Homo sapiens: one gene and its partner. The protein of the gene in region 2 purifies or fractionates together with the protein of the main gene of each other region. This does not show direct contact. Each region holds a gene or a part of one and is shown on either strand. Other genes may lie near its edges.

The links.
Region 1: the proteins of RHEX (region 2) and PLD1 purify together in Homo sapiens (affinity purification with mass spectrometry; 3 studies listed by BioGRID and IntAct, with this or other methods). This does not show direct contact.

Annotation. Positions count from the first base shown.
Region 1 is NC_000003.12:171,600,820-171,604,569, forward strand, and holds part of PLD1 (phospholipase D1), read right to left. Parts: intron 2,484-3,750; coding exon 2,259-2,483; 3' UTR 1-2,258. UniProt on the Homo sapiens protein: Function as phospholipase selective for phosphatidylcholine. Implicated as a critical step in numerous cellular pathways, including signal transduction, membrane trafficking, and the regulation of mitosis.
Region 2 is NC_000001.11:206,098,170-206,101,919, reverse strand, and holds part of RHEX (regulator of hemoglobinization and erythroid cell expansion protein), read right to left. Parts: coding exon 3,739-3,750; intron 2,266-3,738; coding exon 2,122-2,265; intron 785-2,121; coding exon 723-784; intron 169-722; coding exon 1-168. UniProt on the Homo sapiens protein: Acts as a signaling transduction factor of the EPO-EPOR signaling pathway promoting erythroid cell differentiation.

The DNA of each region.
Region 1 (3,750 bases), on a different chromosome or scaffold from region 2:
CTAAGATTTTCATTTCATTAGCTCTCTCCTTCACCTTGTTTATTAATTCTACAAGCATTTATTGCCATCTCCTATGTGCCAAGCACTGGTCCAGGCTCTGGGGATACACTATGAACAAAATACAGTGAAGTCCCTGCCCCATGGAGCTTACATTCTAGTAGGGGGAGACAGACAAACACATAAATACAAAATATCAGAGGGTTCAAAACAGCTTAGAGGTATCTTGCCTGAATTCTGTTTACTGCATATCCTCATTCTTGGGCAATGATAAAGTGAAGAGAGAGGCCAACAATGGGCTGCAGCAATGTTGCTAGTCCCAGCTCTACCATCTACACATTGAGTGGATTTAAGTGAGTTCTCATCTGATCTGAGCCTCAGTTTCCTCATCTATAAAATGGGGAGAAATTGGATTAAATTACTTATAAGGGAAAGGGTCCTTTCAGGCTTTTTTCATGAGAGTAGGGTGCTGAAAATCAAGAGCCAGTTTGTTGACTCCTCTAAGGTTTAAAAAATATTTAAATATAAAATCTAAGAAATCCTTAGAGATCCCATACACTCAATACTTCAAATGCCAATCTGAACTTCTTTCATCAATAGCAAATTCTTATTTACAATGGCTATAGAATGAAGTCATTTTACCATCTTTAGCCATATGAAAAATAAGTTATTTACTTATAAAAACATTCATTTTTATTATTGGTTACAAAATCTCACCTTATTTGTGAAATGTTCCCTAGCTATGAGATCCTGCCCTTGATGTGACACTATTTCTCTCTTCTGCTAACCCCTATCCCTGACTTTGTGCTCCTGTTTAATTTTTCCAACTGAAGTATTAGCTTTATGAAAACAGGGATCGGCTGCTTGCTTCTTTGAAGAACAACCCAAATGAGAGTATGTCCAGGTAATCCATAGACATGTATAATCATTACACCTGCATTTTGTTTTACAGGTACAGGCCTTTTGGTAACCCACATTAGCTCTTTAGACTGTCAGAGTTGTTCAGCTTAGTAAAATTTAGTTTATCAAAGGGTACTCTAACATCCGAAAAGGAAAAACACGTTTCCAGACTAATTCACAGACTAGGGCATTGTAACTTCACTGGAAGCCCTGGTGAGAGGCGTTAATACATATTTAATAATGTAAGTGAAGTAGCACATATTTTATAATCAATTAATTTTTCTCAAAGAAGATAATGTAGCAGAAGACCTGAATGTCAAACAAGGTTAGACTCATACTTACTAACTTGGTAGGAGTTACGATGCCTCTGATTCTCTTGAAAGACAAACTGTATTCACTAGTTTGATTTTGAAATGTAGAGATCAAATTTCAATCAACCCAGCAGCTAAGGATGACAGGAAATTTTACAGGACTAGAAGGAATCATCTTCTCTTATCTGGATCTGATCCTCCTCGACACCTTGGGGGTTTCCGAAGGCTGTGTGCTCTCAGTTTTAGCTGGTTGTTACGTAATCAAATATCCCATGCATGTTTTTACATTTGATCAGGTGGGCCTAATCACAAGGACTCATGTTGTCAGTGCCTTTGGGAGCAAAATGAAATAAATCTCTGTCTCAATATTGGAATTTATTCCTTCCTGTTGCTTAGTGGTGTCAAGATACAGTGTCAATGTTACCAGAAGTGCCTAACACAGTCTACTGTGTAGGCTAAAGTCTGCCGTGTTCGTACAGTGACTGAAAAGGAATAATGACTATATCCTCATTTGGGTGAATGTTACTACTTCAGGACCAGATGAGCAGGGGCATCCCATGTAACCATGAAGAATCTTGAAGCAGCATTACAACATCTAATAATAAACAATCTCTCAAACAGTGCCTGTATGAACTGCAAGATGAGGGCAGGTCCAGCTAGACATTGGCTGCATAAATGAAGATCAGAGAAGAATAAGGAGATTCAGACAACTTTTGGCAACCTAGATCACAGTTACTGGTAAATTCTTGTTACAAAGGAAATGGATTTTGGTATACGGAATTTGAATATGTGTTTTACTCAACAGAGTACATGCTACCAACAAGAATGCAGCCCCCTTTTTACAAGTTAGGCAGAAGGAATTATAAAGTCTTGCTGATGTTTACAGTCCTTACATCAATGTGACTGCAGCCCTCCCCAGTCATTCCAAAAGGTCCTTGGGTTGGATACGAGAATGCGTCAGGCCTGGCTTTGGCTATGACATCCCCAGGAAGTCACTGTGTGCAGTGTGGTCTCCAGGGTGGAAGTCTTTGAGCTGCCAATGAATATCTCTTAAGTCCAAACCTCCATGGGCACTATGGCCTCTTTGGTCCCAACAGAAGGCAGTAGGCTTTCTTCAGACAAGAAATAAAAGGGGAATTGCACCAAAAATCCACGGATCTTCTTCAGTTCCTCCTCAGCTCGAATGGGATCTTCCTTAGCTAATACGGGCTTGTTTATAAAGTCTCTCAGCTGAATTAAATTGTGTACTTCATCATTGGGAAGGCACCGGAAAACCTGATTAGAGCATAAATAGAAAAATGAGTGAAAAGTTTAAAAGCGAGCACATGGCCTTTATGGAAAATAATTATTCCAACAGACAAGACCTCTGTTGTATGAAACATATTATTAGTCTTATGTTACAGCACAGACCTGATTTAAGAGTTGGTTATCTTATAACCAACAATAGATAGATCTGCTACAAACAGATAGATCTGCTTCCATTTAAAAAATCATGGTTAGTGGCAAGAAATTACACTAATGTTACCCCACATTAAGGTTAATTTTTTTTGGATAATAATCATCCCTGAATTTCACTGGAGCTTCTGGTCTAAGAGGAATATTGCATATTATATTTTCCCTAACTTTTCTTGAAAGAGGCTCATATCTGTACCTTTACATAGCATTATCAATTGTTAATATGTAACACTTACTTTGCTGGTTGAAAATGAGTTTTGGATATCATAACACTTCACCCCTGAATACTTCTCTGCAGGTATGTCTTAAGAATAAGGACATGTGCCTATATAATCACAGCACTATTCTCACACCTAAGAAAATTAATTATATAATGTCATTTAAGTTATGCTTCATATTCAGATTTATCCTGTTATCCCCAAAATGTCTTTTATAGATGTTTTCCCCCAAATCCAGGACCCAAATAAGGCTGTGCACTGCATTTGTAAAATTACATTTTAATGACTCTATGCACATGACCTATTTGATCATGGCCTTCGGTCCATGAAATAAGGATGAAATAAGGTTATACAGGGGTCAGGCGCATTGGGTCATGCCTGTAATCCTAGCACTTTGAGAGGCCAAGGCAGGCGGATCACTTGAGGTCAGGAGTTCAAGACCAGCCTGTATCATAATACAAAAATTAGCTGGGTGTGCTGGTGGGCACCTGTAGGCCCAGCTACTCGGGAGGCTGAGGCAGGGGAATCACTTGAACCCAGGAGGTAGAAATTGCAGTGAGCCGAGATCATGCCACTGCACTCCAGCCTGGGCAACAGGGTGAGACTCCATGTCAATTAAAAAAAAAAAAAAAAGGAAAGAAAGAAAAGAAACAAGGTTATACAGACAGTAGACATGTTTCATTAAGAATAATAAGTTTCTCTGCTGGAAGGGGCTCTAAGAGAAAAATTGCGTATTTTCCCTAATTTTTTTTTTTAAAGAGGTTCACGTCTGTCCCTGGAAGTCATGAAGAAGAACACAGACTTATCCAACTTCTCACAGATGGTCAATTAGTCTGGGCTAGAACACAGCTTGAATAGTTTTCCCTGAT
Region 2 (3,750 bases):
AGACAGAGCAGGGTTGACAAAATACCAGAAACTGGGCTTGTGTCTTTCTGGATTGACATTGACATAATCTGTGATTTCCTTTATGTTCTCATAGTCCAGCGGGGAGTCATTTTTTAGTTCTCCAGGGTCAGAAAAGACGACTTGTGTGTAATCCACATCCTCTGTGGCCTTAGGAGAAAAGCAGAGACATGTGGGTCAAGATCCCTACCACGTTTGGGGGAAATAAGACCCCAGGACTGAACTCTTACTCAACAAGATTCGCCCATGGCTTGGTGGGGAAGATCTGGGTCCAAATAGCTGTGTCTGGGAGCAGTCCAGGGCAATGAGGAAGATTACCAGTGACTTTGTTCCACCTGTCTGCAGGGAATGGGATTACAGACGAGCAGGTGGAGGCAACAGGAAGATGCTGAGACTCAATTCAAGGGAGATCAGGACTCAGAGCAGACTTGAGCCCAACAACTGGGGTGTGGGGAGAAGAGGGTTTCCCATTAGCACTTTCATTTTTACAGTCTGTTCAGACCCACTTTGTTTGGGTGATCCATGCAGATATGGGTTATGGGTGGAAGCCTGACCCCCCCTCACCTGAGGATGCTGTGATGACTCAAGAAACCCTCTTTTCTTGCTCCCACTACATAGCTGGGGTAACTTGAGTTTTCAGCGTTTTACAGCAGGGATCCCCAGACTGCATATGTTCGTCTGAGATCACTAGGCACATCCATTACCTGGCAGGCAGGAGGCGAACTGCAGGAGCTATCCAAGCTATCTGAGGGTGTGTCGCTGTCATCTGGGGAGAAATAGAAACGGTTCCTCTTCCAAAGCAAGCCAGAGGGTGTTAAGAGAGGATAGAGACAATGGAAGGGAGAATTGTCTTATTATCAGATAAAGACAGAGGCAGAGCCAGCAACAAAAAGGGGGGGTAGGGAAGAGAGATACAGAGACCCCAAAAGAGGAAGAAGGAGAAACAGAATAGGGGAAGAGTAGGGGGAGAGAAAGTCTCCAAAAATAGGCAGGGACATGTCCAAGAGGCCAAGCACTGCTGCTTCATTCAACTCCATCTAAAACTAATGTTAAAAAATACACTAGGTTGACTGTGCTTGGAAAGGGCTGTCTTCCAGAAAGAAAAGTCAGGAGGAACATGCTGGGACAATGTGACCCAATGCAAACAGCTCTGGCCTCAGAAGTTACACCTTCTAGTCCAAAGCTGTCACTAAATCTAGGCAGATCACATCTCTTTTTGTGCCCTGGTTTTCGTCACCCCCAAGACAAGAGGGTTGAACAAGAGTCTCTGAGGTCCCTGACAGCTAAACAATCTCTGATTCTAGCCAGGCTCTGGTGAAGCTTTGGGGCCAGGGGTTAGGGTAAGGCCAGTGCCTCTCCAGTTCTGTTGAAACATGCATATGAGCAGCACCCTCAGGTCCCCACAGGCAGGCACTGAGGCCATGTCTCAACTGAAAAGATAAAATCAGGACAGAGCAAATTCAAACCAATCAAGAGACAAACCAGTGGAAGAAGTGCAATCTCTGGTGAGTGAGCCCCTATCAGGGAGTTGCCTTGTTGCCAAAGCAGCCACTTCCACTGTGAATAGTGACCTATTGGCTCACTTGCAGGAGGGTGATATAGATTTGAACCAGCAGCAAGATTCACATTTATACACTCAGATACCCATGCAGATCTAAGACCATGAAAAAGGGTCCCTCTAGGGACTATGGAGGAGCCAGCTACAGAGCCAGCCAATAACACTGACATAGCAGCAGCCACGGTGGAGGCAGGCAGAGGCAGGTGAAATTTTAACTCCACCATTAGCTGATCAATCCGAAGAAAAGATGCCATGGCTTTACAAAGAGAAGAGCAGGGACATTTCCCAAGCCGCCTGCAATCATTTGCACACGACTAAACCCGGGAAAGAACTTAGACCCACACAAACTCAGAATGATCTTCCCCACGAAATAGAATAAAACACCTTTCTGAAAAAAAGTAGGCTGGCAAGGCTGTCCTGATGTGGCTGTGAGGAATCCTCAGGCTAGAGGTTTGGGCCCATGGGGTTGCTGCAGGGAGGTCCTGGGTGTCCAGAGAGAGCAAAGTTAGTCCCTAGACAAGTTCTCCCTCCAACCCCTTACTCACGCCTGTAAAGGGAATCAGACATTGGGATGTCTCTCTCTGTCTGAGTCTCCTTCATCTCTTTGACAGCAGGTGGATGATGGTGGCCAGGGCTGGGCCTGGGAACCTGGAGACTGGCCGCTTTCAGTATCTGTTCACTCTTGTGGGCTGGAAGGGAGAGGGCAGGGATCAAAAGTGGAAACTGGCCAGGCGCAGTAGCTCATGCCTGTAATCCCAGCAATTTGGGAGGCTGAGGTAAATGGATCACTTGAGGTCACAAGTTCGAGACCAGCCTGGTCAACATGGTGAAACCCCATCTCTACTAAAAATACAAAAATTAGTTGGGCATGATGATGCGTGCCGGTAATGTCAGATACTAGGGAGGCTGAGGCAAGAGAACTGCTTGAACCTGGGAGGCAGAGGTTGCAGCGAGCCGAGACTGTGCCACTGCACTCAAGCCTGGGGGACAGAGTGAGACTCCATCTCAAAAAAAAAAAAAAGTGGAAGCTGCCTGGGTTAGGCACATCGGCTCTTGAATCAGCGCCTGTTGAACACTGCCCTCAGTAAAGCAAACCTTTCAGAAAGATCCCTTCAAACCTCAGCACTGCTGTGCTCAAAACCCTGCCATGGTTCCACGCCTCACTTGGAAAAAGCCAAGTCCCAGCCTCCGAGGCCTCACTCCTCCTTCCTCTCTGGCTTTCTCCTGCTTCTCTCTGCCTGCTCCAGCTGCCCAGCCTCTTTGCTCTTGCTAGCATGTGCCTAACACGTTCCTCCTTCAGGCCTTTGCAGGTAGAGTTCACGCCTCACTCCCTGCAAGTTTATACTCAAAGGTTAGCCTTTTGGGGATGCCAGCCATCCACCAAGCTGTATCAACTCCCTTGTTCCATTTTTCCTCCCTAGCACTTACCATAATCTAGCATATACATGTTTTACTTGTTTATCTTGTTTGTTGTCACATGGAATGAAAGATTCCGGGGGTAGGAATTTTTGTTTTGTTCCCTGTTGTGTAGCCTAGGCCCAGAGAGTGTCTTAGATGCTCAAGAAATATCTGCTGAATGAATGAATGAACAAATGAATGAATGAAGGTAGACTTAACTAGAAAGACCCTCAAAACATCATCTTGCCCCGTCCTTTCTCTTAGCACAACCAAAGCAGCATTGTTTTATTTTCCCTAATTGAAATGCCTTTCCAGGACCGAGCTTCACTACCTTCTATTGTTTATCAGTTCAAGAATTTAAACTAATCTCTAAGTCCAACCATATTTCCTTCTGTTGTAATTCAAGGACATTTCTTCATATTCAGTCCTTTAACAGGGATGAAGAAAATTAATTAGACCAGGTTACACGAGCACTTCCTCGTAGGCATTGCAAAAGCTGTGTCTAGGCAGAAGGTCTGGGTAGTAGACGGATGTGGATGGCCACTTCCAGCCAGAAATAGTTGGTTAAAAGGTGAGGTCAGAGTGGGGATTACCCAGATACAGTTATTGGGGGGAGGGGGAGCGGTGGGAAGGAATTTGGCCGGTGGGTCCTCTGGTAGGTTTTTGAGTGACGTTTGGGAACTCCAAAGGGGTCTTGTCCTGCTGGAGGCTCGAGAATGGTCTCTGAGAGTGACTAGGAGGGAAGAGGATGCTGAGCCAGTTACCCATGTGCCTGC